7 separate regions of the Homo sapiens genome follow, and regions 1, 2, 3, 5, 6 and 7 are each reported to be linked to region 4. The links are microRNA targets in miRTarBase. Many come from high-throughput screens and were not tested one by one. Region 4 holds a microRNA gene; each other region holds the end of a gene's coding sequence.
Evidence for each region. The annotated mature microRNA hsa-miR-4662a-5p reads UUAGCCAAUUGUCCAUCUUUAG and lies in region 4 at 1,754-1,775, opposite strand. An mRNA with a match to its seed (bases 2 to 7 or 8) in the 3' UTR can be bound and repressed. Matches are read on the target gene's strand: a 7mer-m8 pairs with bases 2 to 8, a 7mer-A1 pairs with bases 2 to 7 and ends in A, and an 8mer does both.

Region 1 (4,636 bases), not on the chromosome of region 4:
CTGTGAGTTTTTAAAAATGTGGTTAAAATGAATCTAAGAATGCCTTTTAACACAGCTCACACTTTAATGAACACCAGAGAATTCACAGCAAGACTGTAAAGCTAGGAATGTAAAGTTATTGTGGGGTTTTAGCCACGACCCTCACCTCACTCTACTATATGCAAAAGAAGAAAGAAAAGTCTTTAGTCATGATTTGCACCTTAATCAGCATCAATTATTCTCAGCAGCCCAAAACCCTATAAATGCAGCAGAGCACACAGGTCTTTAACTAAGTCTAAAAGCCTAGTTAACATCAAAAAAATTCATATTGGGAAAGAGCCATACACATTTAACGACTGTGAAAAGTCCTTTAACAGAGTTTTGGTAACCATGAGAGAATTCAAACCGAAGAGAAACCCCAAGTGTAAAAAATGCAACAAGGCCTTTAGGTATCACTCAACCATTAGCAAAATCCATAGGGGAGAGAAACCTTTTATGTGTAGCTGAAATGATAAAGTCTTAAGTAGTGACCCATTCCTTAATTCAATATCAGAACTTCTGTAAGAAAGAAACTTTATCAATGTGCGGAATACGCAAGGTATATAACCAAAGGAGAGAAATTTGAAGACACAAATGCTAAAGCAGTAGACAGTTCCCAACCACCCCTAAATATGATGGCATCCCACCCCTCTCCCTATCACACTAGCCCCTTACCCTCATTTATTCTTCTTCATGGTACTCATCACTTGACACTCTCTATACATTTATTACTTAAAATGCTTGTCTAACTTCCTCCACTAGAATATAAGCTCTGAAACAGGAGGGGGTTTTAAAAAGCTATATCCTCAGGGTCTAGGATAAAATCTGGCATATGGTAGGCATACAATAGTTGAGTGAATTTAGTGTAGTACTTTCCTTATGTGGGGTATTTGGTACCTTGAGGTTACTTCATTCTAAGTGAATGATTTAGCAGGCTTTAACATATATAAAAATGTGTTCATTATTCTATAATACACCAGAGTAAAAAGCATTTTAACTGCCATGGTCTACAAATTATTCTCCAACTGTGTGGGGGATGGAAAGTTGTATAAAAAGCACCCAGTACTACCCTCATAATTGTACCAACCAGTGAGACCAAGTGGTCTACCAGGGTCACGAAGGTAAAATGAAGTTTCCAACTTCTTAAGAGAAAGTTCTCTTTTCTCAGGTTCAGAATCTAAACACTTTACTCCTCTCAGGATGGCATATATCCCTATATGCCTTGTCAGCCACTGGTATAGAGGGCATAGCAGTTTGGAATCCAATAGCAACAACTTTTTGTGCAAAGTTTGGCATTTAGAATCATGCCTCATTAATTCAAAAACATTACTAAGGGCCTACCATGCATTAAGCACTATGTATACAGGTAAATTTTTAAAATATGGAGTTTACCAACAATAAAGAAAATAATTACAAAGCAGTGTGATCAGTGCGACAACATGGGAGGGGAAGAGTAAAGGACCAGAACAAAGGAGCATCTAATTTGACTGAAAAGGGCTTTAAAAAGCCTATGAAAACAGAATCACTGAAGCTGAGTCCTAAGAGGTAGGTAGGTATTCACTTGGTCACAAAGAAGGATGCAGAAGTAATGATGTGTGCAAGGCTACTGAGGTGGAAAACACACAAAGCGCATTTAGGGAAGAAGTGGAAGTACTTGCAATTGATCAGGATGCTCTAAAAAGAGGGATAGTCTGTGGTTCTAAAAACCGTATTAAAAATAATTTAAATCTTTATACTTAGAAAGCACAAAGGTATTTTCATAAGAAAACTTGCTAAAATGCTAAGTTAAATAAAAATCTTAGCTGTGTAATGATAAACAAGGGGGCTGGGGCAGGAACTGAGAAATTCCCTTTGCCACAGAGGCTCTATATCAGAATTTGTATGTTTACCAAAAGCAGCCTGGATTTTAACTGTTTGAGCAACACTGGACTAGAACATGATTACACAGGATGACTGCAGAGACATGGCTGGGAAGGTAGTCATTCTGTGTTGCCCTGATCTGCGGAAAATCCCAAAAAGAGAAAACTTACAAAGCAGAAAGGATTTTATATAACAGATGAGGACTTGACGTTTGGAAACACTGAGCTTAAAATTACTGTGGGATGTCTAATGAAGATATTTGATAGACAGTTAGAAACAAGGTTTAGAAAGCAAGAGATAAGTCAGGATACAAGTTACAGGTTTGAGACTCAGTCTGTTATTACAGGTGGTAAAAGAAGCCATAGTTATGAATGACATTGTATAAAATATGTAAAGTAAAAAAAAAAAAGAGAGAGAGAGAAAAAAATATAGTGAAGATCAATACCTAAAAGGTAGGCAGAAAGTGAGACAACACTTTGTGGGGAAATGAGAGAGACAGCGAAGATGAAACCAACATGTAGCACAGAGTCGCCTTTGATAGGAAGCAGGCAACCTCTTTTCCTCTAAAATGGGAAAATGAGTAAAGTTGGTAAATACAAGTTGACCTCTTCATAGTCTCAATTTTCTGTTCAATAGGAGAAAGAGCCATATGCTAGGGGAGGGGCAGAGGGCCTAAGGAAAGTAATGAAGTTTGGCTCAGCCACAGCGGGAAATGGGAGAGAGGCCACCCTAGTAACAAACATAAGGTTTACATTGAGGGCTTTTCTAAGGCTGAAGTGAGACACTTGTAGTGATTCTACTTTGAAGGACTACCCATCACAAAGAACTCAGCATCCCCGAAAAGGTAGATAATAAATAGGATTAATCTGAGGTTGAGGGCTTGCCAAAGGACTAGACTAAAAGACCAGGGAAAGAAGAATAACTGGTGAGATTAGTTCATATAGTATCCCATAAAGCTGAGGGTGGATAGGGAAGAAAGCCTGAAAGGGGCTGACAGTTTAGGAGGAAGGGGAGCAGTCAAGAAAAGGGGGTAAGAAGGAACTGAAGAATGTGGAATGAGCATAAAGGAGAGAAAAGTCAATAAAATAAGGAAGTGAAAAAACTGAAAAGAGGGCAGTTATCAGTTACTGAAATTTTACCAGAAAGAGAAACTCAAGGTGGTGACATTCAAAGTGCGGCCACGGGAGTAAGCTGCTGGAATGTAATAAAGTCACTGGGCAGAAGTCCAAGGTATCAGCAAGGTATCAGAAAGATCATCCAAAGATGACAACAGGAGTTGAGGTAGACAGAAAGACCATGAGCAAGATATCAAGTTAGGCTCTCTGGCCTTTAACACTCACCCCTATTATTAAAGGCAAAAAACATTAAAATTTCAGTATGTTATGAAAAGATGTGCTACAAAAACATATGAACTAATGGTAGACTAACCTAGCTTGGTTTTTATCTTCATTACTCACTTGAAAAGCCATGCATTGTCTTTTAAACAAAATAGAAAAATAATTTTTAAATTTTTATAAAATGCCTAAGGGAAGTAGAAATTTTAAATACAATTAGTAATACATGGCAAAATAATTAAACACAATGATTCCTTTGTGAGATCTTTCATTATTTACCTTATTGAAAATGGAATCTGAATATTAGTCATAATCTTTCATTTTGCCTACATTTATATCCATAGTATGTATTCAAAGCAGTGAAGTAACTTGACTTTAATTTCTGAAGCATGGCAAACTTCAAGGTAGTGAGATTTAAAAATAATCTAAAGATGATAAAAATGGTAAACTTGTGTTACATATACCACAATAAAAAAAAAAAGTAATAGAAAAAATCTTTGTAAAGCTAAATTGGGTTACTACTCATTATTAGTGACATAACATCTGTATTTTAAGGTGAGTTTGAACAACACTTTAGAAATTAAAGAATCATCCCTTCATAGGTTTACTAATATATAATGAAAAAGATGGTGATGTTGTTTTAGTAGGGTACCCAAGCTGGATATCTTTATGCAGTGTAATGTTCTCATATTCAGTATCAACAGGTCTTCTTTTTTGGAACTCTCTTTTCCATTTCATGGGTTTTGTTGTTTTTCTATTTGAAAAGGACTAGATGAACTTACTAGTTACAGCGATGATGAAAGAAGTTTAAAATTTGTTTTGCATTCGTTGTATTCCATTCTTGTTCTTTCAGGGGTCCTTCACACACAGATACATACTTTTTCAAGATTTTTTCTCCTACTTCTCGGAAATCCAAGGGTTCCTTGTATGTAGTGCAGCCCGCTCCAGACACACTAGTATCCACTTCATGATTTTCTGGTTGCTGATCAGCACAATACTTCGATCCCCAGTAACACATTTCTCCACTGTACATCATAGCCAGCAGATGAATGTCACTAAATATTCCTGGGAAAGTCATTTAGGTTGACAGATTAGAATTAAAAGCTTAAAAAGAAACCGTAGTTATTAACTAAACTCTAATTAAAGTTCCTTTTGTCATTAAGCATTTTCTATTCTCACTTTAACAGTAACACAAAAGCCAAATATGACTAACACAATCTTCATTTAATTAGCATTTTTTAATATCGATTTTACTGATAAAGGAGGCCCATTACAAAAAGAAAAACAGAGTACCAGAGAATTTTTTTAGAGAACCATTTAGGTGTTTTTGACCTTTTTGGGGTCCACTCTATAACTTCTTTGAGAATCTAATTTAAGGAATAGAACTTCTCCCAGAATATACACCCCAAATTCTGCAGTCAATT
Region 2 (4,636 bases), not on the chromosome of region 4:
GACATGTAAATTATGTAGCAAAAGCAAGCTAGCTACTACAGTACTGAGATAGACACTTCATGTATGCAGCAGTCAGGCACGGTGCTCAGCCACCTTCATCCAGCCCAGATATTACCCGCCAATAACATTGTTCGCTTAGCTTGTTTAATGTGGGTCAGAAACAGTTCAAGTACAAGGTCACTTGATGAAAAGACCTAACCCATTTTTCCTGCACTGAACCACATCCCTTAGAGCTTGGACTCTCTGTTGGATTACGATTTCTATTTTGTAATAAAATGTATCCACTTAGCATTTAATCTTTGGTCTCTTAGTGGTTTTTCCTCTTTAACATCAATCATCATATCCACTTCCAGCCAGTAACAAGGTGGAAGAGCTGAAGAAGATTGCTCTTCTCTTTTAAGGAACTGCCCAGAAGTTGCACAACACTTCTACTTAAATCTCATTAACCAAAGCGTAGTCACGTGGTCATGTGTAGTTTCAGGGGAGTCTGGGGAAACAGTCCTTTGGATAGATCCAGCAAAAAGATGGAGTTCTTGTTAATGAGAATGAGCAACAACTAGCAGACTTTGAAACAATACTCAATGAAAATCTTAAGAAAAAATAGTGACTATATAATCTCATTAGGGCTCCAAAAGATTGTAAAAATAGGATACTGTTTTATGGTAATCAACTAATCATTCCGTCTTTTTTTCTTTTAGGACTTTCCGTGACATTTCTGAAGATCTGAAATCTTCAGTAGGTTGATGTGGTTTCCTCTGCAGTGATTTTTCTAGGAAGTTCAAATTTGACAGCGAGTTCAGCTCAGCTGTGGCCCTCTGCCCTTCCAGCTGTGCCTAGCAAGCAAAACCCAGGAAAGAAGCAGAAGCCTCCTGGCCTTACATACAGAATGCCTGGACAAGAGAGAACTTGCTGCGGGCTGCTTTGTATTTTAAAACACAGCTTGAGAGTTCAGAGTTGGTGGTTTGCTCACTTAACTGTTGTTAAGATGGCTTGAAAAGTTTCATTTTATACACTGGTACCCTGGCTTGAAATTTTTCCACTTTGGTTATCTATGTTACTATATTATATATTTATAAAGTTATTTTAAGAACTCTAAACTACCTGCTGTTAAAAGAATAGATGGTGTAATTTTTTCCTGGTTTAAGAAATGTATTGTTAAACTTTTCTAAGACAGTCACTTTTCAAGGAAGAGGGCTTTCACTTTTGAGTGTGTAGTTGAGTGAGCAGGAAAAATGAATCTTCTACCCTTCTCCCACAATGTATTATACGCTCTTTAAGAAATAATAAATCATAAGTATAAGGGTGGGGTGGCTTATTTGATGTTCAGTTTTATATTATAACCCTGGGAGATACAAAGACTGAAGCTCTTCCTCCTCTTCCTTTTCTCTTCACGCTTCTTTACACTATTGCCAAATTATAAAACTTGGCTGACCACGTTGAAGTGAAATACTTATTAAGCTGCTATGAATGGTAACAGTATGATAAAATTCATGCTGTTATTAGGTTTTCTCCTTCCAGGTGGTTGAAGTGAAAAATCTCAGGTGTAGCAATACTCTGATTTGTTAAATGTATCCGTTTCATTATTTGGAACTCTGCCAATAAGTTAGTTTTCAGCAGAATTTTGTATTTATGTAGTATTTTCCCATCTCTTAGCACAGTGCCTTGCACATGACTCTAAATGAATGCTTGTTGAATTGAATTGCAACTTTAAAAATATCTCAGATATCACAATAACCAGCATAGTGCTTTACATTTTACAAAGTCCTTTTGCACATACTATTTCACAAGTACATCACATCAGCTTTCATATAGCTTTATATTATTTTACATCAGTTTTACACTGATGGAGAAGCTAAGGTTCAGAAAAGTGACCAACTCAAAGTCGTAAAGTGTAGTAGGATTTGGCCTCAGATCTTTGACTCCGTTGTGTGCAGATTCTGCTGTATTAGTGTTCCTTCTAAATATTGTATGCAGTTTTCCCAGTGTTACGAGATTGGTGTTGCTATCCATTTGTTGTGAATGAAGACTTGTCCTATAGTACATGACAGGGCTGAGAGTGGACTGTAGTTCTTAGCTGAACCCTTTCTACTGTTTAAAACAATCATCAGGCCTATCCTCTGCTCCCAGGGGAATGTGGGAGAGAAAAGGGTTCTTGGCCAGGCTGTAGGTGGTGGCTCACATCTGTAATCCCAGCACTTTGGAAGGCTGAGGTGGGTGGATTGCTTGAGCCCAGGGATTTGAGATCAGCCTAGGCAACATGGCAAAACCCCATCTCTACAAAAAAAAAAAAAAAAAAAAAAAAATTAGCTGGGCACGGTGGTGTGGCTATAGTCTGAGCTACTCAGGAGGCTGATGTATGAGGATCACCTGAGTCCAGGAGGTCGAGGCTGCAGTGAGCCAAGATGGCGCCACTGCACTCCAGCCTGGGTGAGAGAGTGAGACACTGTCCCAAGGAAAAAAAAAAGTGTTGGGGGGTAGTTCTTAAGCGTTGAAGATTTCCTTTTTGGAAAGTATTTAAAGGTAGAAATATTAATAATTTTTCCTAAAACATCTCCCTAAGAAGTCACTGATAATTATAATTAGTTTAAATTTATTCTTACACTACTTAAGAAAAATTTCATTTAGAAAAGGCTACCATGAGATCTTTTGACTATATGGAGTAGACTGCATACAGATCTCTTTATTTCTATTATGAATATTTTAGCGATTATAATCAGCTATTCCACTGAGTATTAGATTTGGTCACTAAGTAACTCATGTTTTTCTTTAGTCAATCATTCATTCATTCACTAAAACATTTGTTGAGAGTTGGCTAAACTCTAGATTCTGTGCCAGGCACTGTACAGGGTGATGGAGATCACTCATAAGAAGGCCTCTTGCTCTTAGCCAGATCATATGTAATACTAAATTTAAATTTTTTGCATTAAAAGGCTAAAAAATCATTTGTTTTTGTTAATTATATACTGGTTGATTTATAGATGTAATTAGCACATATTCATAAGAGACAAATATATACAATGAGTTACTATACATATACAAAGTGATTTTAGCTGTATAAAGTGATATTGCAAAAAACTACAGCTAATGTTTCTTGCTGGGTAATTATTAGCATAAATATCAGGTTCTTAGAGGTCTTTAAGAGAATACTTTAGAGCTACCAAAATTAGCAGCAGTGATGTAATATCACCCTGAAATACCAGGAGCAGAGGTGCCCCAGAGTGCTTCACAGCTATGATCAGGAAACTTGACCTGCCCCATTGCTACAGCAACGGCATAAGGACTAGGAAGGTCCACTAGCTGGGGAGGTCTTGGAACCCTCCGAGCCAGAAAGAAGCATTCCAGCATGATTCCTCAGATGCAATGAGGAAGGTTTACAGAATTTTCACAGGGCAACAGAGATCAAGTGGTATGAAAAGGTAGGAGTTTTAAGCTCAAGTCTCAAAGATAACCTACCTTTACATTCTCAGTCAGAATTTGACCCAGAAAGAGGAAGTTTCTTCAGGAACAGACCGTACGTTGATGAAGTAGAAGTCATTTCAGTAAAAACGGAGTACAGAACTTGGTCATAATATCTTGCATTTTATAGATTTATTAAAGATTAGTTTCAAGTTCACATTCGCTATTCAGTTGTAAACCGAATGGATGGGAGGGGAGAAAATACAAGCTCTCCACACAGGTATGCTCCTCTCTTTTCTGAGAGAGAAGGCATGGGATTTTCAGCATAAATTCCATGTTATGTGAGTGCTGTTTGAGTTCTGAAGTTCCTATCAATATCTGTTCCTGCAAGTGATCTCTGTAAGACCACCTTACATGCTGGTCTTAGTTATTGTTAAAATTGCAAGGTTTCTTCACACCCTCTTTGATAAGAAGTGTTTAGCTGGCAGAGCTTTCCCTTGACTTCTGAGTCTAGTGTGGGTTGGCCCATGACAGTGGGAAGAAATCCAACATGTTACATGGAGACCTTGTATGTAAACAAACTCTGTAGCCTTTGAAAGTGGAACTGCTTTTTACAGTTAAAGGGCTGCTAAATGGCTTGCAGATGAGATCTTCTGGCTCACCTTGATCTTCACATGAACCCATTGTGACCTATCTGGATTTCCTAGGACCTGTAGTTTCCATTTGGGTTATATTAGTGCCTCAGGAATGTGTCACTACTGGTCAAGCAATACTCAGAAATTCAGGCTGTGAGGGGTTAGATTAGAGGAAAGTAATTTAGGTGAGCTATCCAGAGCTTTCAACCTCAGGGTTTATAGGAAAAAAAAACAAAATACAAAAACCCTTAGGACTTCTCATACTCTAGCCCTGACCTTGCAGTCTCCTCTGAGGGGCCTCCTAAGACCCTTAAAATAATATTACAATAGGACTTTGAGTGTGCATTTCACAGTGGAAATAGCCTCTGGCTAGCATTACTTCCAAATGCTAGTTCCAGCTAAAAACAAGTACTTTTTATTAGTTTCTTGTCTTTCAACATTCTGCCATCAAAATATATTCATTTTATTAACTTACCGATTATTGGGAACCTGCAAAAAAAAAAAAAAAAAAAAACACACATGCTGTCTGCAGCCACTGTTTGGTTATTTTTGATAGTTTAAGAGAATTATAAATCAAGTTGTTCTGTCTACTAGAGTCAGAAATT
Region 3 (4,636 bases), not on the chromosome of region 4:
AACAAGAACATCTTCACCGTCTCTGATCTGAAACCCGACACGCAGTACTACTTTGATGTATTTGTGGTCAACATCAACAGCAACATGAGCACCGCTTATGTAGGTACCTTTGCCAGGACCAAGGAAGAAGCCAAACAGAAGACAGTCGAGCTAAAAGATGGGAAGATAACAGATGTATTTGTTAAAAGGAAGGGAGCAAAGTTTCTACGGTTTGCTCCAGTCTCTTCTCACCAAAAAGTCACCTTCTTTATTCACTCTTGTCTGGATGCTGTCCAAATCCAAGTGAGAAGAGATGGGAAACTTCTTCTGTCTCAGAATGTGGAAGGCATTCAGCAGTTTCAGCTTAGAGGAAAACCTAAAGCTAAATACCTCGTTCGACTGAAAGGAAACAAGAAAGGAGCATCTATGTTGAAAATTCTAGCTACCACAAGGCCTACTAAGCAGTCATTTCCCTCTCTTCCTGAAGACACAAGAATCAAAGCCTTTGACAAGCTCCGTACCTGTTCCTCAGCCACCGTGGCTTGGCTAGGCACTCAGGAAAGGAACAAGTTTTGCATCTACAAAAAAGAAGTGGATGATAACTACAATGAAGACCAGAAGAAAAGAGAGCAAAACCAATGTCTAGGACCAGATATAAGGAAGAAGTCAGAAAAGGTCCTCTGTAAATATTTCCACAGTCAAAACCTGCAGAAAGCAGTGACCACAGAAACAATTAAAGGTCTTCAGCCTGGCAAATCTTACCTGCTGGATGTTTATGTCATAGGACATGGGGGGCACTCTGTAAAGTATCAGAGTAAGGTTGTGAAAACTAGAAAGTTCTGTTAGTTACCTTCTTATAGAGATATATTATGTAGAACTCCAGGAGGGACATTAAATCACTTTAAGTATAAACTGACTACTCCCACAGTTGAGAGAAGTTGTGACCTGTACTTGTACTATGGAAGGAAGGATATCAACGTGTGTATATTGATGTTTATATAAGTAACTCTTGAAGGAGACTTGTTCTAGCGTGCCCCATGGTACCTAGTGTGTGTCTGATGCCGGTTGGTGTCAAAGATAGAGGGCTTCTTGAAGGAACTTGCCATTCCTTGCTTTGACCACTGCATGAACTGCTTCTAAATTATTTTATTACCTAAAAATTTAAAATATGCCATTCATTGCACACACCCACAAATGCAAATCATTCCTCTCTGTAGATGCTAGGATATATATAAATTATTTTATAAATTCTTGTTTTAAATGTCAGTGTTTCTATGATTGTAAACTATTAAATTCTTTTCCTATTAAAGTACAGATCTAATCTAAGTATTATTAAGTTGATAGCCCTCTAGTCAGTTATATTGCTATTGTAAATTCTTGTTTGTTGAGTAAAATGTTTAAATACTATATGTATCTCATGTACAAAGTTGACATACATTATATTCATGTACATAAAATTAAAGAGATTAGATTATATACTGTTCATTTTCCCAAGCAGCTACCTTGGTGTATTCAATTTCTAATCTGTCCTCAAAACTGCACCTTCTGTAGTTTGGCACCAAAACAGACCCTTTTTTAATAATTAAAAAGGGATGCCCCATCTCTCTAAAGTTACTATGGCATTAGAAATAGTTATTAAAATTTGTACTTTTGACGTTGAATGGGAGCCAGCTGTTAGGAGAGTTAAGAGAGCTACAATAGACTTGTTTTAAAAGAATAGGACAAGCCAAACACTAACTCGACAAGTATTCAACAAATTGTCCTTAATAACCTAAAATATATCACTTTATAAGCATTTATTTTAAGTACAAAATTGAGATATTTCAAGCATTTTCCATCTGTTTGAATCTTAGCAAAATAGTTAATAATTATTTTAATCTCTAGCTGATGCAACTTAACAAACACCAATCAGGACTTTTATTAGTAAGAAGAAAACTAGGAAAGCTGTTGTTTTATAACATTAATGGTCTGCTACTTTTAACTTTGATTTTTCATGGATTTTTTAAAAGTAATTTCAAGTGTAAGAGACAATTTAGGCAAATCATAACATATTTTATCAGAGACTGTGCACAAAGGGCACTTTTAGGTAGCTTCATTCTCCACAGGTTCTATACATAAATCATGAGGTGTTACGAGAATATTGGTCCAGGAATCAGAAAAGTGTGGAATTTACAATCACCTAAAGCAATATGACTTTAAGAAAATCTGTTACCTCCCATCATCTCCCTTTCCCATCTGTTAACATTTGGTGGTGATAGATTTAGATGAGTTGACATTGTTAGATACTTTCTATTATAAGAGGTTGTCTTTGGTAGAATTCTATGATTCTAAAGTGCTGTGACTACAAGTGTGGACAGGTGTAATCACTTTACCTCTACACTGCCCGCTGCATGCTGACACTGCCTTTCATATGGTGGGCATTCAACAGCAACATTCCTGTGGAGTATAGATGGCTATGACTAAGGTAGTGTAAGTGGTGGTCCTTATAAAATATGCTCTGCTTGCCTTAGGGGAAAATAGTTCCTTAAAAACGTTCTCATCCAACTCCTCAGTGTTAAGATATCTAAACAAAAGTGACCACATCTATACACAACAGTAATGACACCTGAAAGAATTTTTTAACAGATAAAGAACAGTACTCCCATGGTTATGTAACCAACCAACTAGGAAGGAGAGACTTTAAAATTGACAACATCCCAGAGATGTTATATCCTAAGTTATGAATGTGCTGCCGTTGAAGAAAAATCAGCTTTCTCATATTACTCACATATATATATTATTACATAACAATGTGTTAAATTGGACTACAGTGAATCAAAGAGTTATTGCAGCTTCTGAAGGTGACAGACTTTTAACTTTCAGATATTGCTTAATGCCTGGGAAACCCTGGGAACCACGCCAAGTCAATTTAACCAAGCTTTTGCTTTTTAGCCAGCTGTGATGGTGGTTTCTACATAGTCTGGATAAATCCAAGAATACTTTCATGGCCCTAGTGAAATTTGCCTTTTTGAAATTATTAGGAAAACGAAATACACATTATGAAACTTCTATCACTCCTAAAGAAAGGGGAAAACCTATTAAAAATGAAGCTCTTATTTACTAATGCATTTCTATTTCAGGAGCATTTGGCTAAACTGGGGACAAAAAACAAAAACTTGTTCTTAATTAACAAAAGAACTAGAAAGAAGCTCATATGAAAGCACCACCTTGTGTTCAGTAAGCTTCAGGATAGCTCTGTTGACAGCAGGGCATTTAGAGAGTCCCAAGTATAGTCATGTATCACTGGGGAGGGAAGAATCTTTGAGGACATCTAGTTTACAATCTTTATTATTTTTCAGGTGTAGAAAAGAGATTAAAGATCATAGAAGTCAGAATAAATTTGTAAAAGTTCTCATAGTCAAAACAGCTAAGTAATGGCATTGCCCAGACTCCAAAATCCTGACCAGAATATAAATCACCAATTGTTGGTTTAAAGGGGTTATTTGTGAATCATTTTCCAAAAAAAGAAGTACACTTTTTGTGTTACTTACCATTTCAAAGAAACTTATTCTTCAAGACCATTTCAGATTTCCTTAGGAATGTATGTGTTACCCATAATTGACCACTTCAAACTTGTAAGAAAAAAAATGTTATGGTCATTTTGTTATTTTTAGAGACAAAGTATTTCTAATCTAGGTTTGCATACAACCTTGAGGCTGTGAGATCATTAGTCAATTGCTTTAATTATAAGCCCTGTTTTTTTTTTAAATCTAAAAACTAATAAACATCTATAAGAATTATAACAGATTATTTTCTTCATTAAATTTGTAATCAAGTTCTAGATTAAATGTTTAAACATGCATTAAAGGATTAGTTCTGAAAAGCACTTATTTTCATTACTCAACACATTTGAAAAAATGATTTTGATATGATGAAGAGACTTAAAAAAAGACAAAGATGAACTTCAGAGTTTGAAAAAGGCTTAATAATTCTCAACAGTTTGAATGAAACCACACATGCGTGCACGTGCACACACACCTACACTTTTGTATATATTCAAGGGATCCATTGTAGCTGAAACCAATCCAATATCTCTTCCAATATTTTACCAATCCCTTCTAGAGATTATCTAGTTCTACCATCTCATTTTACAGATGAGGAAATTGAGGCCCAATTAAGACTAGAATCTAGATTCTCTTACTCCCAGTTTAATGTCCACTCAGGACTTCATCTTAAGCACTTCTTCACTATAGAAAGCATGGGACAACTCACCCAGAGTATACTTCTTTGTCTCTATTCACTGGCTGGCTTCAAAACAACACAAAAGCATCTAACTTGGAGGACAATGTCATCTGGAGCATCTCCAGCCACTTCCTTCCCCCACTCTGATATGGTGTGACAGAGGTACAACTGGCTGGGAGCCTGCCTTCTGGCCCTCTCCCTATGACCAAGTAGAGTGACCACTGCCAGACTTTAGCTGATCTCTATATGTAGTCGACCAAATGACCTGGGAAGCATCAAGGCACCCTCACAACTGTGTTTCCCCAGAGAGTTTTAGCCAGAAAAATACAGAGTCTTTGGGGATTTGGGCCTTTGTTGTTTTGAAAGTGGGAAGTAGGAGAAAGAACAGGGAGAGAAGTAGGTAGGGTGTGAAGAGAAGTATAATTTTATCTCATTT
Region 4 (4,636 bases):
ATGGGCTCAACTAATGCAGAGAATTGTAGGACATCTAGCCCTGCTCCTAAAGGAGGCAAAATGATCCTTATCATGCCTGTTATAGCCAAGGAAGGCTGGACCCAATTCCACAGAACTCGAGATGGCGCTTTTCATTTCAAAGAAAAGACACTATGAGCCTTTCTCATATTTCACAGCATGCTGTGTGTTGCACTTGACCTCTACTCTTGCCCTCAGCTTCCCCAGGTGGCCTCGCCTCCCTGCTGCAGCCCCAAAGCAGTAAAGCTACAGCTCTGGGCCATGGGCTGTGGCTTCAGTGATCTAGGACCTGATTCTCCTAAAAACCACAAATGGATAGTTCTTCCAAAGACCCAGGGTCCTCATAGAACTCTCTAGAAACAGTAATGATCTCCTTGGAGCTCAAACAGTCCCTGAGCTATCAGACCCTGCCAACACCAGGGCTTAATGCTCAGGGAACACATTTTATGAGAGCAACTGTCACTCCTGAGCTTCTGTGGGTCACTTGAAATCACCCAGTTATTTTTCACTCAGCTGAGGGGCAGTATAGTTCTGACGGGTGGCTTTGGGTTCACTGCCTTCAACTCCAGTCAGAAAACGTTAGTGCTGAAATGGATCCGGGGTACAAATAGTTGGGTTGTTGACATGCTTTCTTCTGTTGTATACATAAAGGTTCCACATACAAAAACCTATTTGCAAAGAGAGGTCAGATGCTTAAATGTGAATAATAAAAATGCTTATCCATGGGTACTCTAGTTTAATCTCCTCATTACAAGAGGAATCTGAGGCCCAGAGAGAGAAAGTGACTTGTCCAAAATCATACAACTAATATTGCAGCCAGCAATAGAACAAAGAGAGCTCAGGAATTCTGGGTCCCAGTGACTATGGAAAACAATTGTCTGAAATTTTACCACTAGAAATTGCTACTCCCTGCCCCATACTACCTGAGTCTTATTTAGGTAAACAGATAGTAAATATAAACATTATCATTGTAAAAAAATGTTTTAAAGACCAAATATATTTATAAAGTTTTTTAAAGTGATCTTTTGTACCCCTTTGTACTCTACCCAATCCCATTCATTTCCCGAAGGATGTCCGATGTTAACAAATGAGTGTCAAGTCCTTCTAGGCCTTTTTCTATGCACTTAGGAATGTGTTTACAATATATGACTGGGTTTTAAAAATACATACTTATATACTATATGTATGTAGATATAAGTATAAATTTATAAGCCATATTTATATATTATGCCATTTATAAATATAAAATCAAATTGTTCTGTTTTGAGACTTCCTTTGTTCACCTAACCTTGTGTCTTGGCACTTTTTCTCTCTCTTTTTTTTTTCTTTTTGAGATTTTGCTCTTGTTGCCCAGGCTGGAGTGCAATGGCACAATCTCAGCTCACTGCAACCTCCACCTCCCAGATTCAAGCGATTCTCCTGCCTCAGACTCCTGAGTAGCTGGGATTACAGGTGCCTGCCTCCATGCCCACCTAATTTTTGTATTTTTAGTAGAGACAGGGTTTCGCCATGTTGGCCAGGCTAGTCTCAAACTCCTGACCTCAGGTGATATAACCATCTTGGCCTCCCAAAGTGCTGGGATTACAGGTGTGAGCCACCGTGCCCATCCATGGCACTCTTTCCATGTTGGTCAATAGAATCTTGATGTTTTGTCGATGGCTTCATGGTATTCCATTGTATGGATGTACCACAATTTCTATTTAGCCAATTGTCTATCTTTAGGCATTCAGAATAGCTAAAGATGGACAATTGGCTAAATAGACACTGTGGTACACAATGGCTTTTTCTGTTGCAGCCATGGTTGCAGTAAACTTCCTTGTATATAAATCTCTGGGACATGAGCCAATGTTTCTTCAGAAGAGATACCTAGAAGTGAAGATGTGAGATCATTTGTCTACAGAAGGTTTCACTTTAAGTTGTAATGACTCGCCTTAATGTTGTCCAAAGGTTGTTTTTCTAAACCTTATTTGAGGGCCCACAACAGCCATAAACTTTTACTTATGTTTCACCTAGAATCATCACAGCAATCCTGTGAAAGCAAAGTATGATCCCTATTTTTCAAAAAAACTCACTGAAGTAGGAACAGACGAAAAATATCTCAATTTGTGAAAAAGCATTTACAAAAAAAAAAAAACATCTAACATCATACTTAATGGTGCCAACTGAACGTCTTCCCACTGAGATTGGGAATAAGACAAAGATGTCTGCTTTCAACATCTTCTTCAACAGGGTAGTAGAAGTTCTAGCCAGTGCAATATAGCAAGAAAAAGAAATACAAGACATACAGATTGAAAAGAAAGAAATAAAATCATCTCTATTTGCAGATAACATGATTGTCTATTTATACAATCCTAAAGAATCTAAAAAACATAAACTAAAATAAACCTCCTAGAATTAATAAGTGAATTAAGTAAGGTCACAGAATACATGATCAACACTCAAAAATCAAATGCATTTGTTTATCCTGTCAATGAACATGGGGAAACTGAAATTAAAAACAATACCATTTACAATCACTTCAAAGAAAATAAAATACTTAGGTATAAATACATATACTATGTCTCTGATGAAAATTACAAAATGCTGATGAAAAAATAAAGACCTACATAAATGAGGAGAAATACCATGTTCATAGACTGGAAGACTCATCATAGTGGAGATGTCAATTCTTCCCAAATTATCAATAGTTTAACACAATTCTTATCAAAATCCCAAAAAGATTTTGTAGACAAAGCCAAGCTTATTCTAAAATTTGTATGGGAGGCAAAAATTTTGAAAATAAAATAGCTGTGATAACTATTTTAAAAAGTAGGAGGAAGCACTCTACCTTGTGTTAAGTCTCACTATATAGCTACAGTTGCCAAGGTAGTATGATATTGGTGGAGAGATAAACCCACAAATCAATGAAACAGAATAGAGGACTCAGAAATAGACCCACAAAAATATACTCAACTGATTTTTTACCAAAAATACCAAAAGTGCAAAAGCGAGTGAATGAAGGAAGGAAACTCTTTTCAACAAGTGGTGTTGGAGCAAAAAACAAAACAAAACAAAATCTCTTGTTTTAACTTAAGTCTCATACTTTAAAACTTTATACAAAAATTAACATAGATCACAGACTTAGATGTAAACATAAAACTTCAACACTTTTAGAGAAAAATATGGGAGAAAATCTTTAGCACTTAGAGCTAAGTTAAGGAGGTCTTAGACTTAAAATCAAAAGCACAATTTATAAAAGAAAAAATTGAGGCATCTTGATACTTCATCAAAATTAAAAATGTTTGCTCTGAAAAACACCCTATTAAGAGAATGAAAAGGCTGGGCACAGTGGCTCACACCTGTAATCCCAGCATTTTGGGAGGATCACGAGAGGTCGGGAGTTCGAGACCAGCCTGACCAACATGGAGAAACCCCGTCTCTACGAAAATACAAAAAATTAGACAGGCTTGGTGGCAGATGCCTGTAATCCCAGCTACTCGGGAGGCTGAGGCAGGAGAATTGCCTGAACCCAGGAGGTGGAGGTTGCGGTGAGCCAAGATGCGCCATTGCACTCTAGCCTGGGCAACAAGAGCGAAACTCCATCTCAAAAAAAAAAAAAAAAAAAAAACAGAATGAAAAAATAAACCAGAGACTGGGAGAAAATATTGGCAAACCACATATTCATCTAACAGACTTGTATCTAGACTATATAAAGAACTCTCAAAACATAACAGTAGAAGACAAAACAATCTAATTACAAAATGGGCCAAAAACCACAAATAAATGGCTCATAGAAGAAAATGTACAGATGGCAAATAAGCATATGAAAATATGTTCAACACCATTAGCCATTAGAAAAATTCAAATTAAAACTACAATGAGTTGTTATGGTGTAACTATTAGAATGGCTAAAATTAAAAAAAGCAATAACACCAAATGCTAGTGAGGATGTAAAGAAACTGGATCACTTACACACTGCTGATGGAAATGTCAAATGGTAGCATCACCCTGGAAAATAGCTTGCCAGTTTCTTATAAAACTAAGCATGCACTTACCATTTGCACATTTGTACATTTATCTCAGAGAAATGAAAACTTAAGTTCACACGAAAACCTGTACATGAGTGTTCATAGAAGCTTTATTGGAAATATCTAAAACCTAGAAACAACCCAAATGTCCTTCAATGGTTGAATGGTTAAACATCCATACCATGGAATACTATGCAGCAATAAACAGGAATAAACTCTTAATACAGCCAACATGGATGAATCTCAAGAGAATTACACTGGGTGAAAAAAGCCAATCTCAAAAGTTACATATTGTAACCTTTTGAATTTTTATAGTATTCTTGAAATGACAATATTATAGAGATAGAGAATAATTGATCAGTGGTTTCCAGGGCTAGGGATAAGGAAGGAGAGGAGATAAGTCTATAAGAGGTAGAATGAGGGAGGCTTGTTGTGATGAAACAGTTCTCTATCTTGATTACGGTAATGGTTACATGAATCACATACACGTGATAAAACTTCATATAACTATACACACAGATGGGCACACACACACATAGAATAAGTGCATGTAAAACCTGTGAAATCTGAATAAACTCTGTGGATTGCACCAATGTTAATTTTCTGGTTTT
Region 5 (4,636 bases), not on the chromosome of region 4:
TCATTCATTCATATGAACGTACAATTATAGCCCTTTAAAATAGAGAATTGCAACTTTTGAGACACTTTTAAGAAAATATGCGAAGTTATTGTATACACAAGTGAATATAATAAGGCTTGGTGAATGCCCCTTTGTTTGCCTTTTAGGATTTTGAATGATATGACTGCATGAAAAACCAAAAATCACAGAAAAATAATTTCATCCTTATTGACTTTAAAACTCATTACATTAGTATTGAGTGGAATAGATACTAGTTTTGTTGGTTTCTGTGACCAAGCAGCAAAAATTCTAAATTCATCGTTTTAAGGGAATGCAAATATATGAAGCATTTTTTAAGTTTATGTTTATACTCCCTACCTTACTCCAAGAAGAATTTAAGGCAGTTCAAATCCCACTTAAATTTATCTATCAGTCATAAATGCAATTCTCAGTCAGTATGTATTATTATCCATAGGTCTTACTCATCCAGTTCCACTGAAGAGGACACTTCAAAACAAAAGAAACAAAAATATCAGAAGAAAGAAAAGAAAAAAGAAAAAAAGAGTAAATCAAAAAAAGGGAAACATCACAAAAAGGAAAAAAAGAAGAGAAAAAAGGAAAAGCATTCTTCTACACCTAATAGTTCTGAATTCTCCAGAAAGTAACTGAGACTTTGGCTTAAGCCGTTAAATTTAAAAATTTGTTTTTAAAACGTGTTTGCCCTTCCTTGGAATTTGCTATATATTATGCTTTGCAATAAATCACAGCCTTTTCCATATAGACATTTTTCGTATTTGGGACCATTATCCCTCTGGCAATATATTTTTAATGTGCTGTAACTGTAAAGTATTAAATCAGTCTTGTTACTTGATAGCCATGCCCCAAGTATAGCTATTTGTGTATACTAAACACATCATTTTTGGTATTTGTGTCTCTGTGTGTTTGGCTAGTGTTACTACTTCATAAGTTCATTGTAAAATGGCTTTACTGCCATCAACATGGGTCATCTACCTAGCAGTTAATGAGTATTGCTGGATCAGGTGTCCACCTTCCAATGATGAAGCAAGGTAAGGGGTAATGTTTTGCTCTTGACACAGAGAAATTTAATAGCTTTATGTACTAAAATATAATATCTTTTAAAGATAGTGAAATTCTTCAGTTTTTTAAATCTCTAGGGATTTTTTTTCAATGTTGTAGAAGATGCAGCTGCTTAATGGTCTTGACTAGGACTTTTTAAATGAATGGTGTCTGCAGGTAGATGATCATGAAAATATCTCTAACAAAGTTTTACTCTTCTATGAAATGCAGAATTTCTAGTACCTGCCTCCTTTGTTTTTGTAATAATTAAAATACTTCTTGTATAAAGAGATTAGTTCAGCCTGTTAGTAAGTCTGCAGAGATGATGCTGAGTTGGTTGTGATTTTTAGAATAGACTCCTGGGTTGTTTTACAAATGTGCCATATTGGCATGTCTTACAGTGATACCTCAAACACAGAAATTTTTATTTAGGAAGATAGCTAAATCTTTATTAGAACTGATTTTTATTGTATTCAGTATAAATTTTATGAAGCTTGTTTCTATGAGTACTGTGGAAAATTTTATAAATGTGAGCATATATATTTATTTTGTCTGACATAATTTGTAGTTTTAAAGCAAGTTTCACACTGAACTTAACGTTTTCATAAATGACCAGTTTGGGATGTTTCTCTCTTTTACTTTAGTGGCAAACTCAAGAGTAAAAAGTGTCAAAAAAAGAATTGAGAATTTTATTCTGTACTTTTTAAAATTTAAGAGCCAGGGAGTTGCATCATGAAAGCCTTTGTATAATAATGGAAATTTTATATGGGTAAGCATTTTCAAACACATATTAGTAGATACGTTTTTTAAATTTCTATTTTCACATTGATCAGTGTTACTTTGCTTAATACTTAGGTAGCCCTTATGTCCACTAAAGTAAATGCTTATGTTGTAGAAGCATCGAACATCAACCAATGTCATGGCACAGCACCAAAGATTGCAAATACCTCACTATGGTGCGCTTAGAAATTTTCAAATTGATAACCTATAGATACGGCTGCAGGTGAATTCATGATAGTGAAATCAGCTAAGTATACTTAACCTCACAGGCTAGAAAGGTTTACTGATTCTTGTTTCACCTGGCACCCAATGTGGATACCCTCAGTAAGACTCAGGGAGCCTTATAACTCCTCTTAACATATGCTTACCCATGCTTAAATTCTAGGGAAGCTGTATCCACAGCCCTCTGCATTGCAGCCATGAGAGCTCTCACGCTTTCAACCCTTCCATAACCTAATTTAGTCATTTGGGCCTCTCAAAAGGAAATGCTTTTGTTTAAATAGGTCAGTCAGTTACTGGGAGAAAAAATACAGAGCCAGTAGGTTTTTAGGGATTTGTTTTGCCTTTGCTGCTAGTTTTTTGAAAATATTCTTCGATTATCAAGATTTTAAAAATCGGTTTTTAATATAAAGCTTTTTTAAAAACGAGGCTGGCACAAGTGCAGTGGTGTTTCTTTACTCCCACTGCTTGACTTGACTAGCCTTGAAAAAATAACAGTAAAATAAAATATTAAAAAATAATTAGAAAATGCTACAAAGGCAATGACCTTATTCCATTGAGTAAGATAGTTAAAAATGATAGTAATTGTAGTGAAATAGTTAATTACTTGTAAGTTTTATTACTGTTAATTGTAGAGATTATAAATTGGCTCATTAGGTTTCTGAATGGTGACACAATAATGACTGAGAAGAGCAAAAGTCAGTCCTCGTTAACTAATGTAGTATGCAAATTAAAATATTTTAATGATCAGTAATTTTCCCCCCAGAAATGATGTTGGCATTTCTAAGTAAATTTCCCATAATTTTAGCATAGTTTATGAAATTGAATAAAAATTTATTTTCACTGAAGTAATTTTCTTCTAATATGATATTATTATTGAGATTGGATGCAAATCTCATGAATATGTTTTAGAAGAAAATTAATGAAATTCCCTCCCAGGCAGTATGTACCAGAAGGAAAACTGAATTTAGCAGTAAAACAGTCCTGGTCATTCTAACTACCTGTATGATCTTGAACAAAGTCACTTAGTTTCCCTGGGCCTTGGTGTCTTTCGTCTATAAAATATTGTACCAGATTATCTCTGAAATCACTTCAAGGTTTAATATATATAATTATCAATATTTTAAAATTCAAGCAATATTCACTTTAGAAATTATTATAACATTCTATAATAGTAAAGGTTGAATTTATTAATATAATAAACACGTTCAACTTCTTCAAGCAGATAATTGATATTTGGTTCATATTCTTACAACCTAATGCATGTCATTTTCACCAAATGCAGGCAGAATTTATATTTAGGTTTGCATCTGGAACTAGATTATCTGGCACTTTATGGCCATTATTTTTGGGTTGATGGACCTTCTCACCACACAATTTCCCCCTTTTTTTTTTTTGCATATCATATGTTGGTTGATATTTCTCAGAGGTATCCCTATTTCTTCATACTTAATATACATCTCCATTTACATCTTTGACTCTCTGAGGTCAAAACAACAATAAATGAGAAGTAAAACAACTATATGTGTTTGTATTTACAACTGTATCTAAAATTATATAACCCTAGTTTACCTTCAGAGTAAACTAGGCTGAAGAGTTGTTAATAATGTTGATAAAAATGCCATTGAATCCTTTCTTCAACAAATATTTATTGAGTACCTAACGTGGCAAACGCTGTGCTAAGTACTGGGGATACAGAGATAAGTAAGACACATTTGCCTCCCTGAAGGACTTCACAGTGTAGTTGGTAGGAGAAACACCAGAGCATACACCGTTATATAATTAGTGCAGTAATTGACATGAACATGAGTTTATAGAAACTCGGGGTTACCTAAAGTAGTCTGGATAAATTAGAAGAGGCTACCTAGAGAAAGTAGTGACTGAATTGCAATTTGATTAAGGATAAGAATGAGGGTTATGGCAGTTCCTGACAGAGTGGGTACTGTGAACAAACACCAGAGGTAGAACAAGCTGTGTTATGTGTTTGTCAAGAATTACAAGCAATCTGGTGTTGCTGGTGTATCATAGGCGAGGCAGGAAGTGGTAAGAATTGAGACTACCATTTTAAGTTCTTAGGAACAGGAGGAAGGAGTCGTGTGTTCCGTGTTTGGGAGCTTGAACTGTAATGTGTAAGCAATGAGACACCATTAAAGAGTTTCAAGGGGGGCCGGGCACAGTGGCTCACGCCTGTAATCCCAGCACTTTGGGAGGCTGAGGCGGGCGGATCACCTGAGGTCAGGAGTTCAAGACCAGCCTGGCCAACTTGGCGAAACCCTGTCTCTACTAAAAATAGAAAAATTAGCCGGACGTGGTGACAGGCACCTGTATTCCCAGCTACTCTGGAGTCTGGGGCAGGAGAATCGCTCAAACCCAGGAGGTGGAAGTTGCAGTAAGCTGAGATCACACCACTGTACTCCAGCCTGGGCGACAGAGCGAGACTCTATCTCAAAAAAAAAAAAAGATTTTAAGGAAGGAAATGACTTTTATTAGGGTTTGGTTTTATCAATTTCATAATCCGATTAATCCCACCATTTTTAAAAGATGAAATTGCTTTCATTAGAAGGCTACATAAAATATAATT
Region 6 (4,612 bases), not on the chromosome of region 4:
CCAGGCTTTGGTTTCTTTGATCCATGATAAATGATGGATTTTCACAGCCTGCTTGAATATGGTGCACCAGTGTCTCCATCTCGTTCGCCCCATCCCTGATGGAAAAGGGCAGTAGATATCTAAGTGTGACATGTACCTTCATCTCCTGGAGCTGTACCCAGCATCAACGCAGTTAGTGTAGGGGTGTTCACTGAGCCAGCCTTTTTGGAGAAACTTTCTCTGGGCTTTATTTCTCTCAAACACCAACATGATGTTCCTTCTGCCTCTGTCTAGACCTTAGGTCTCTTCTTCCCCAGCTTTTTGAATAGTCAGTAAAATTGATTTTAGCTAAACAGCTTATTGCTTTTCTTTATATTAGAGTTCATTTGGATAAAGAAGCCAGCATGACACTACTTGTTGGAAGCCAGGAAAAAAACAATTGTGTGTGCTAGAGATGTTTCCTTTTGCTACATTTGCAGCCCTGGTGACTGTGACATAAATCTATTGAGCCTTGCCATTGCTTCGCTGGGTTCCAAGAACATCCAATACTTGTCTGATGTTAAGTTTTACTGCCCATGAAAGCAAACATCACCTCTGTCATGGCCAGTTAAACAGTATCTTTTCAGTGGACTTCTGCATATCTGAAACCCACCCATCCAAAGCCAAAAGTAATGCCGGGGGAAAGATTTTATGCTGCCATGTTTCTTACAAGGGAAGATCAAGGGTCAACTTGATTCATAAAATTACTGCAGTCATTTTTCAGCTGGCTGAGAGACTTCACAGATCAAAAAATACGTGGCTCCTAAATGATTTCTGATATGCACAATTCTAGTGTTTTTTGTTCTCAGCATGTGGCGCAAAGCCTGCCAGAAACCATCTTTGCGGCTATTGACAGGCGGATTAGAAATCATCCACGATGGTTTCCTTCATTTCTCTACAGGCTGGTCATCCATTTAAACTGCTTAATGTGAATTCCTCTCAAAGCCTGCTTTGTACATGCTTTTCCCTGACGTTTTGTTCTTCTCTTTCAGTGTGGTGCTCACCTTGGGCACATTTTTGATGATGGGCCTCGTCCAACTGGGAAAAGATACTGCATAAATTCGGCTGCCTTGTCTTTTACACCTGCGGATAGCAGTGGCACCGCCGAGGGAGGCAGTGGGGTCGCCAGCCCGGCCCAGGCAGACAAAGCGGAGCTCTAGAGTAATGGAGAGTGATGGAAACAAAGTGTACTTAATGCACAGCTTATTAAAAAAATCAAAATTGTTATCTTAATAGATATATTTTTTCAAAAACTATAAGGGCAGTTTTGTGCTATTGATATTTTTTCTTCTTTTGCTTAAACAGAAGCCCTGGCCATCCATGTATTTTGCAATTGACTAGATCAAGAACTGTTTATAGCTTTAGCAAATGGAGACAGCTTTGTGAAACTTCTTCACAAGCCACTTATACCCTTTGGCATTCTTTTCTTTGAGCACATGGCTTCTTTTGCAGTTTTTCCCCCTTTGATTCAGAAGCAGAGGGTTCATGGTCTTCAAACATGAAAATAGAGATCTCCTCTGCAGTGTAGAGACCAGAGCTGGGCAGTGCAGGGCATGGAGACCTGCAAGACACATGGCCTTGAGGCCTTTGCACAGACCCACCTAAGATAAGGTTGGAGTGATGTTTTAATGAGACTGTTCAGCTTTGTGGAAAGTTTGAGCTAAGGTCATTTTTTTTTTTCTCACTGAAAGGGTGTGAAGGTCTAAAGTCTTTCCTTATGTTAAATTGTTGCCAGATCCAAAGGGGCATACTGAGTGTTGTGGCAGAGAAGTAAACATTACCACACTGTTAGGCCTTTATTTTATTTTATTTTCCATCGAAAGCATTGGAGGCCCAGTGCAATGGCTCACGCCTGTGATCCCAGCACTTTGGGAGGCCAAGGCGGGTGGATCACGAGGTCAGGAGATGGAGACCATCCTGGCTAACATGGTGAAACCCCGTCTCTACTAAAAATACGAAAAATTAGCCAGGCGTGGTGGTGGGCACCTGTAGTCCCAGCTACTCAGGAGGCTGAGGCAGGAGAATGGCGTGAACCCGGAAGGCGGAGCTTGCAGTTAGCCGAGATCATGCCACTGCACTCCAGCCTACATGACAATGTGACACTCCATCTCAAAAAATAATAATAATAACAATATAAGAACTAGCTGGGCATGGTGGCGCATGCATGTAGTCCCAGCTACTCCTGAGGCTCAGTCAGGAGAATCGCTTGAACTTGGGAGGCGGAGGTTGCAGTGAGCTGAGCTCATACCACTGCACTCCAGCCTGAACAGAGTGAGATCCTGTCAAAAAAGAAAAGAAAAAGAAAGCAGCATTCAAATGTAAGACAACTGTAAAATATTGAGCCCCACTTGGTCTAAAATTCAAAAAGAAGAACGCCTGTCCATCGCCTTTTTATAAGTCCTTCTCTCCACACCTAAAAGCAGCTGCAGCTGGAAGGGCACAAATTCCACTGTGTAAAATAAAATATTAGGGGCAACACACTTCATCAAGGCAGCAGGAATGAGAGAGAGCAGAGAAGATCAAGGATGAAGTCTTGGGTACTGAAAAATTCAGTGCTGGGCAGAAAAACTGACAGGGCAGTACAAGTAACAAACAGAATCCAAGTGGGGTGGCCCTTGTGCACAGAGCTCCAGGTGACCTCTGGAGAGACATGGGCATTCACATGGAAAGCTAAAACGGAAGCTCAAGTTTCATACTCAACATAATCTTCTGTGTGACAAAGGACAAGCCATGTAGCCTCTCTGTGCCTATTTCTTCATGCATAAACTGGGACTCATAATATTTGTAAAATGTATTGATACTCTCAGGGCAAATTCACTATATTGCTATACAGTTGAGATCAGTGTTGTAAAATTAAACTGATCTGGTTCTAATTGCCTCAAAGGCCAAAGCCCAGGCATTTGAAATGGAAAGAAGCAGAGAGGAGGCTGACTTAGCTGATTGGTATGGAAACAGTTGGGCCAAGAGCCAGAATTTCCCTTTGTAGCAACACGGCTAGTTTTACTTTGAGAAGCTCTGCTCAGCTGCTTTATAACATTAAGTCTGGCGGAATGGATGTCACTGTGCACAATAAAGTTTTCACAAGTATAAACAATGGTGATGTAAGTCAACATTGCTGTAGCCAGGTGTGAAGGTTGTATGGTGTGTGACGAATGTACATCATGTTTGTAGGTTTGGATGCTAATCTTGAATTGTAGTTTAAAAAATACGTATTTTTGTAACTCTTTGAAAGTTTATGAAGACTGACAGCTTTCCTTGTAAGCACTAAGAGAAAAAAAAGAAAGAGGGACATTTGACAATTTTAAAGAAACAACAAGAAATTAGAATGAAAATCTGTGACAAACAGCGTCAGTGTGGCCATGTCCACATTCCTACATGTCTCTCTCTACAAGCACCTCTCTAAGAAGCCTGACATCCCGGTGGACTCTTTATAGTCATGTACACTTGATTCCAGATGAGCTCTGGTCTTATCTGGATGCTCAGATAAGAGGTTTCTATCTGAGCATCCAGATGTTCCCTCAGGTTCCAAGACATTTCACCCCAGGCCCTGGGTTCACTCTGGAATTCGTAGGCTTCACGTCTCTCTAGAAATGACGTGTAAAATTTAAGACCAGACCTCAGCCATCAGCGTCCAGACCATCCTAGAAGTCTTTCCCAATCTCACAGAGAAAGCCCTAGTATTTCCCAGTGACCCCAGGATTCCACGTTGGGGTGGCCAAAGAAATAGGTCTCTCAGGGCTTTGCCACAGCCTCCAGCCCATCCTTCAGAGGCACACACAGCACCTCTCGGCTGCTCCAGCTCTGTAGGATAGCCTCCCCTGGGGTCCGTGGGACGCGGGCCACAGTGTTGAGGTAGACAAGGAGGATCAGTGAGAGGCCTCTTCCCTCTCCACAGAGACTGGATTGTCATTGTTCCTTCATTTATATCGTAGGGCTTAACATTTCACTCAAAAAAAAGCCCCTCTTTTTCTAATCCTTAGTCTTTGTTTCAAGGAAAGCCAGTTTTTCTTCTACCACATTTTCCAGGATCGACTTTAAGAAAAATGCAACATCTATTGAAAAAAAGTGGGGTGTATGCATGTGGTTTAATTCCAGATTGCTTTTGGGTTTAAGTGGTATCAAATTTCAGTATATTTCTGTCTTATGTGAAAGAAATATATTACTAAAACGTCAGTGAGCAATAATGTCAGCTGTCAAGCACTAGATTTATTTTTGCAGGATATGGAGTGCAATGAACTGAGTCAATATGGCAAGGTGTATGTGATCTGTGGGAGTTATGCCATTTAACATAGGAAGTGCATGGGACTTTCCCTCTCTGCACTCCAGCTCTTACTGTACCATTAGAAGATGCAGAATTCTGTTGGTGTGCAAAAAGTATAGCCTTACATTCAAGCAGAATGGATCTGAAGAAAGCAGCAATATCTGTTACTAGAGAACATTCCCATGTGTTTAAACTCTTCACTTCTTAGATGCATTTAAATTCTTAATGCAAATGACGTAGCAATTTGAAAACTTCTCCGTATTACTTGTGTTTAAAATGTCTTGCTTTAAATACAAAACAAATGGTAAAGGGGATTATCTTTTGTTTAGATGG
Region 7 (4,636 bases), not on the chromosome of region 4:
TCTCTCTCCCAGCTCCCTGCCCAGGCCCACAGCCATGGCCATGGCCCAGAAACTCAGCCACCTCCTGCCGAGTCTGCGGCAGGTCATCCAGGAGCCTCAGCTATCTCTGCAGCCAGAGCCTGTCTTCACGGTGGATCGAGCTGAGGTGCCGCCGCTCTTCTGGAAGCCGTACATCTATGCGGGCTACCGGCCGCTGCATCAGACCTGGCGCTTCTATTTCCGCACGCTGTTCCAGCAGCACAACGAGGCCGTGAATGTCTGGACCCACCTGCTGGCGGCCCTGGTACTGCTGCTGCGGCTGGCCCTCTTTGTGGAGACCGTGGACTTCTGGGGAGACCCACACGCCCTGCCCCTCTTCATCATTGTCCTTGCCTCTTTCACCTACCTCTCCTTCAGTGCCTTGGCTCACCTCCTGCAGGCCAAGTCTGAGTTCTGGCATTACAGCTTCTTCTTCCTGGACTATGTGGGGGTGGCCGTGTACCAGTTTGGCAGTGCCTTGGCACACTTCTACTATGCTATCGAGCCCGCCTGGCATGCCCAGGTGCAGGCTGTTTTTCTGCCCATGGCTGCCTTTCTCGCCTGGCTTTCCTGCATTGGCTCCTGCTATAACAAGTACATCCAGAAACCAGGCCTGCTGGGCCGCACATGCCAGGAGGTGCCCTCCGTCCTGGCCTACGCACTGGACATTAGTCCTGTGGTGCATCGTATCTTCGTGTCCTCCGACCCCACCACGGATGATCCAGCTCTTCTCTACCACAAGTGCCAGGTGGTCTTCTTTCTGCTGGCTGCTGCCTTCTTCTCTACCTTCATGCCCGAGCGCTGGTTCCCTGGCAGCTGCCATGTCTTCGGGCAGGGCCACCAACTTTTCCACATCTTCTTGGTGCTGTGCACGCTGGCTCAGCTGGAGGCTGTGGCACTGGACTATGAGGCCCGACGGCCCATCTATGAGCCTCTGCACACGCACTGGCCTCACAACTTTTCTGGCCTCTTCCTGCTCACGGTGGGCAGCAGCATCCTCACTGCATTCCTCCTGAGCCAGCTGGTACAGCGCAAACTTGATCAGAAGACCAAGTGAAGGGGGATGGCATCTGGTAGGGAGGGAGGTATAGTTGGGGGACAGGGGTCTGGGTTTGGCTCCAGGTGGGAACAAGGCCTGGTAAAGTTGTTTGTGTCTGGCCCACAGTGACTCTCTGTGCACGACTCAACTGCCAAGGGCATCACTGGCCAATTCTTGGATTTAGGGATTGGCTAGGAGTTGCTGGGGTCCACTCCTGGGCCTGCCCCAGCTCCTTGCCCAGGGAGAGGGAAAGAGTTAACGGTGTGGGCCACTCCAGCTTGCCCTTCCACTGCCACTCACTGGGGTGAGGCTGGGGGTCAGCTTGGTGAGGATTGGGGCTTCTAGATTGTCTAGGCAGGAGGTGAAACTTAGGCCAGAGTCAGATTTGAGCTGAGCCAGGGGAGGCCTTGGCAACCTACTTCTACTCAGATTTCATTGCTGGATGCGGAAGGGGTAGGCCCAAAATATATACAGGATCTTACTGTCCCTTGAAGCCCAGCCACAAGTGTTGGAGCTGCAGAGAGACCCCAAAGGTAGTAGATTGTGCCAGATACAAATGGGTCCCATCCAGTGCTTCATACTCCTTCAGTCACTATCCCAGACAGTGAGCCCCAGATCTCCTAGCTCTGGCTTCTGTGTCCCACACGGCCTGTTCCCAGCTTCTCTCCTGGTTCCCTTGTTACGGATTCATTTATCCATTCAGTGTTTCCTGGGCCTCTGCTCAGAGGCAGGTCACCACTGGGCCCTGTGGATCAATGCAAGATGACAAAGGCTTTTTTTTTTTTTTTTTTTTTTTTTTTTTTTGAGGAGTTTCGCTCTTGTTGGCTAGGCTGGAGTAAAATGGTGCGATCTCGGCTCACTGCACCTCCGCCTCCCAGGTTCAAGCGATTTTCCTGCCTCAGCCTCCCGAGTAGCTGGGGTTACAGGCATGCACCACCATGCCTGGCTAATTTTCTGTATTTTTAGTAGAGACGGGGTTTCTCCATGTTGGTCAGGCTGGTCTTGAACTCCTGACCTCAGGTGATCTGCCCGTCTCGGCCTCCCAAAGTGCTGGGATTACCGGCATGAGCCACTGCGCCTGGCCGACAAAGGCTTTGATATCAGAATGAACTGTCAAGGGAGGTGCTGGAGAGGGATTAACCTGTGCTGCCTGGGACCCTCAGGGTCTTAGGTTGGGGAGTGTGAATAGGAGTTTGCAGATGGAGAATAGGAAGGGCATTCCAGGCAGAGGGAAACCTGTGCAGAGACCAAGAGGTGTGGAAGGAAAAGTGGGGTTGGGGCTGGGTGGTCTGGATTATGGCCTGGATGCAATAAAGTACTGTGACAGTAGCCACCTCTTTGTTTTTTGTCTCCTGTTTCCGGGAGGGGCCCCTGCTCACATTACTGGAGGTTTTCCGGAGGAAGCTGGGGCCCCTGGGAGTGGACACAGGGTGCAGGGAGCAGTTCTTGTTTTATCTTTGCTGGGGGATGGGGTTGGGGCCTTATATACCATATCTATATATACAAAATTTGTTTGGCAAGGGAGTGGGCGGCAGTTTTATTACTAAAGTTTTATAAGTAGTTAAAATAATGTGTTTAAAATATGATAATCCCACTTTATGATCTGACAAAGACTTTTTTTGTTTGGTTTTTCCTTCAATTAAGGAGGGTTTTTTTGTTTTGTTTTTAGTGGAGGGGGCAGGGGCGTGCACACTCCACCACACATATTGAGCCTCGTCGCATGCGCACCGAAGAAGTATGTTAACTTTTATAATATTGCTTTTTCCATAGTACACAGCAATATATATACAATGAAGGAAAATTGGGAAGATAAGAAAACCCAAATTAATTAGAAATATCACTTCACTGCTGAAATATCATGGGGGACCTTATGAAATACACACACACACACACACACACACACACACACACACACACATAAAATATGTGTATATAAATAAATATTTTGATATAGGCCAGGCATGGTGACTCACGCTTGTAATCCCAGCACTTTGGGAGGCTGAGGCAGGCATATCACCTGAGGGCAGGAAGTTGAGACCAGTCTGGCCAACATGGCGAAAACCCATCTCTACTAAAAATACAAAAATTAGCCAGGCGTGGTGGCACACACCTGTAGTCCCAGCTACTTGGGAGGCTGAGGTGGCAGGATCGCTTGAGCCCAAGAGGTTGAGGCTGCAGTGAGCTGAGACTGTGCCACTGTACCCGAGCCTGGGTGACAAAGCGAGATGGCTCTGTCCACCATGAAGACAGGCTCTGGCTGCAGAGATGGTTGAGGTTCCTGGCTGACCTGCTGCAGACTGGGCAAGAGGTGGCTGAGCTTCTATCCTCCCTCCACCAAAAAAAAAAAATTACAAAATTTTTGGCCGGGCGCGGTGGCTCATGCCTGTAATCCCAGCACTTTGGGAGGCTGAGGCAGGCGTATCACGAGGTCAGGAGTTCGAGACCAGCCTGGCCAATGGTGAAACCCCGTCTCTACTAAAAATACAAAAATTAGCTGGGTGTGGTGGCGTGCGCCTGTACTTCCAGCTACTAGGGAGGCTGAGACAGAAGAACCGCTTGAACCCAGGAGGCGGGGCTGCAGTGAGCCGAGATAGCGCCACTGCACTCCAGCCTGGGCGACAGTGAGACTCCGTCTCAAAAAAAAATTTTTTTTACATATACAATATGTAAACATTACGTATAATGTACATATATTCCATCTATGGAGATTGTGGTTAGGGACGGAAGGATGGGTGGGGGTGCCAACATTTTTGCATTTCCAAGGGGTTTTCTGAATTCACAAAGTACTTTCACAACCTCATTTGATCCTCTTTAAAATCCAAGGCACAGTAAACGGTGAAAGCAGGACTGAAATCTAGTTCCTGACCCCAAATTTTAACCTCTTCAAAATCCTCTCCCATGTGGCTTCGTAGTTACGCTTACATTAAAAAAAAAAAATTACCAAAGTTGTTCGCACACTCGAGTGTCTGGTAACCACTTAGGTCGAGGACCCCTGGTCTGGAGTCGACGGGCCTGATCTCGGCTCAGCCACTTCCTTCTGGGGGTGATCGCGAAGATTCAGCGATGACACGAACAAATTCCTAAGCCCGGGAAATACTGTAAGAAATTTTCAATACAGCAAAAAGAAAATGTACATTTCTGAGGCTGTCGAGAACCGTTCACACAGCAGCTTCCGAATCCGCTCTTGAAAGAGCGGATCAGAAAGAACACGCACTCCTCCGCGCAGGGAAATATGCCGCACGCACTCAAGGGACCGGCCGCGAAAGTTAGTGCGTGGGCGGGGCACAGCGAAGGGGGCCAGGGCCTTGCCGGGGCGGGGCTGGCGCCCGGGGCGGTCGCGACGTAGCCCCGCCCCCAGCGTTGGCGCGAGATCCGAACGTCGGCGGCCGCGGTTCTGGCGTTCCCTGAGGCGCCGGGAGCCTGCGCCGGCGTCCTGCCGGCTTCGTCTCCTCAGCGGCCATGAGGCGGACAGGCCCCGAGGAGGAGGCCTGCGGCGTGTGGCTGGACGCGGCGGCGCTGAAGAGGCGGAAAGTGCAGGTGGGACGCTGGGGGATGAGAGGGCGTTGGGAACCAGGTAGG

Region 1: miRTarBase lists RIMOC1 as a target of hsa-miR-4662a-5p. Seed matches in the 3' UTR shown: 7mer-A1 at 129-135.
Region 2: the mRNA of TMEM245 is a reported target of hsa-miR-4662a-5p. Seed matches in the 3' UTR shown: 8mer at 2,809-2,816.
Region 3: the mRNA of NDNF is a reported target of hsa-miR-4662a-5p. The part of its 3' UTR that is shown has no 7-base or 8-base seed match.
Region 5: the mRNA of SREK1IP1 is a reported target of hsa-miR-4662a-5p. Seed matches in the 3' UTR shown: 7mer-m8 at 922-928.
Region 6: the mRNA of MSRB3 is a reported target of hsa-miR-4662a-5p. Seed matches in the 3' UTR shown: 7mer-A1 at 1,937-1,943.
Region 7: the mRNA of PAQR7 is a reported target of hsa-miR-4662a-5p. Seed matches in the 3' UTR shown: 7mer-m8 at 1,245-1,251, 7mer-m8 at 1,879-1,885 and 7mer-A1 at 2,001-2,007.

Annotation. Positions count from the first base shown.
Region 1 is chr5:41,916,657-41,921,292 of GRCh38, reverse strand. RIMOC1 (RAB7A interacting MON1-CCZ1 complex subunit 1) reads right to left here. Exons shown (of 6, transcript NM_175921.6): 6 at 1-4,277. The coding sequence ends at 3,994. It also overlaps the pseudogene LOC100419715. Among named protein-coding and RNA genes, the nearest start is that of FBXO4, 6.3 kb to the left of the region's middle. RefSeq lists an enhancer at 2,787-2,946.
Region 2 is chr9:109,016,568-109,021,203 of GRCh38, reverse strand. TMEM245 (transmembrane protein 245) reads left to right here. Exons shown (of 18, transcript NM_032012.4): 18 at 699-4,636. The coding sequence ends at 744. Among named protein-coding and RNA genes, the nearest start is that of CTNNAL1, 5.4 kb to the right of the region's middle.
Region 3 is chr4:121,032,453-121,037,088 of GRCh38, reverse strand. NDNF (neuron derived neurotrophic factor) reads left to right here. Exons shown (of 4, transcript NM_024574.4): 4 at 1-1,476. The coding sequence ends at 825. Among named protein-coding and RNA genes, the nearest start is that of NDNF-AS1, 37 kb to the left of the region's middle.
Region 4 is chr8:124,819,129-124,823,764 of GRCh38, reverse strand. MIR4662A (microRNA 4662a) reads right to left here and starts at 1,780; the gene lies at 1,714-1,780. It overlaps MIR4662B (microRNA 4662b), which reads left to right and starts at 1,707; the gene lies at 1,707-1,787.
Region 5 is chr5:64,720,392-64,725,027 of GRCh38, reverse strand. It overlaps SREK1IP1 (SREK1 interacting protein 1), which reads left to right. Exons shown (of 5, transcript NM_173829.4): 5 at 455-4,636. The coding sequence ends at 644. Among named protein-coding and RNA genes, the nearest start is that of SHISAL2B, 32 kb to the right of the region's middle.
Region 6 is chr12:65,462,145-65,466,756 of GRCh38, forward strand. It overlaps MSRB3 (methionine sulfoxide reductase B3), which reads left to right. Exons shown (of 7, transcript NM_001031679.3): 7 at 1,011-4,612. The coding sequence ends at 1,178. Among named protein-coding and RNA genes, the nearest start is that of LINC02454, 140 kb to the right of the region's middle.
Region 7 is chr1:25,859,238-25,863,873 of GRCh38, reverse strand. PAQR7 (progestin and adipoQ receptor family member 7) reads left to right here. Exons shown (of 3, transcript NM_178422.6): 3 at 13-2,390. The coding sequence starts at 35. The coding sequence ends at 1,075. AUNIP (aurora kinase A and ninein interacting protein) reads left to right here and starts at 4,417. Exons shown (of 3, transcript NM_024037.3): 1 at 4,417-4,594. The coding sequence starts at 4,517. RefSeq lists enhancers at 457-1,226, 3,511-4,136, 4,010-4,239, 4,137-4,636 and silencers at 3,600-3,659, 4,260-4,519.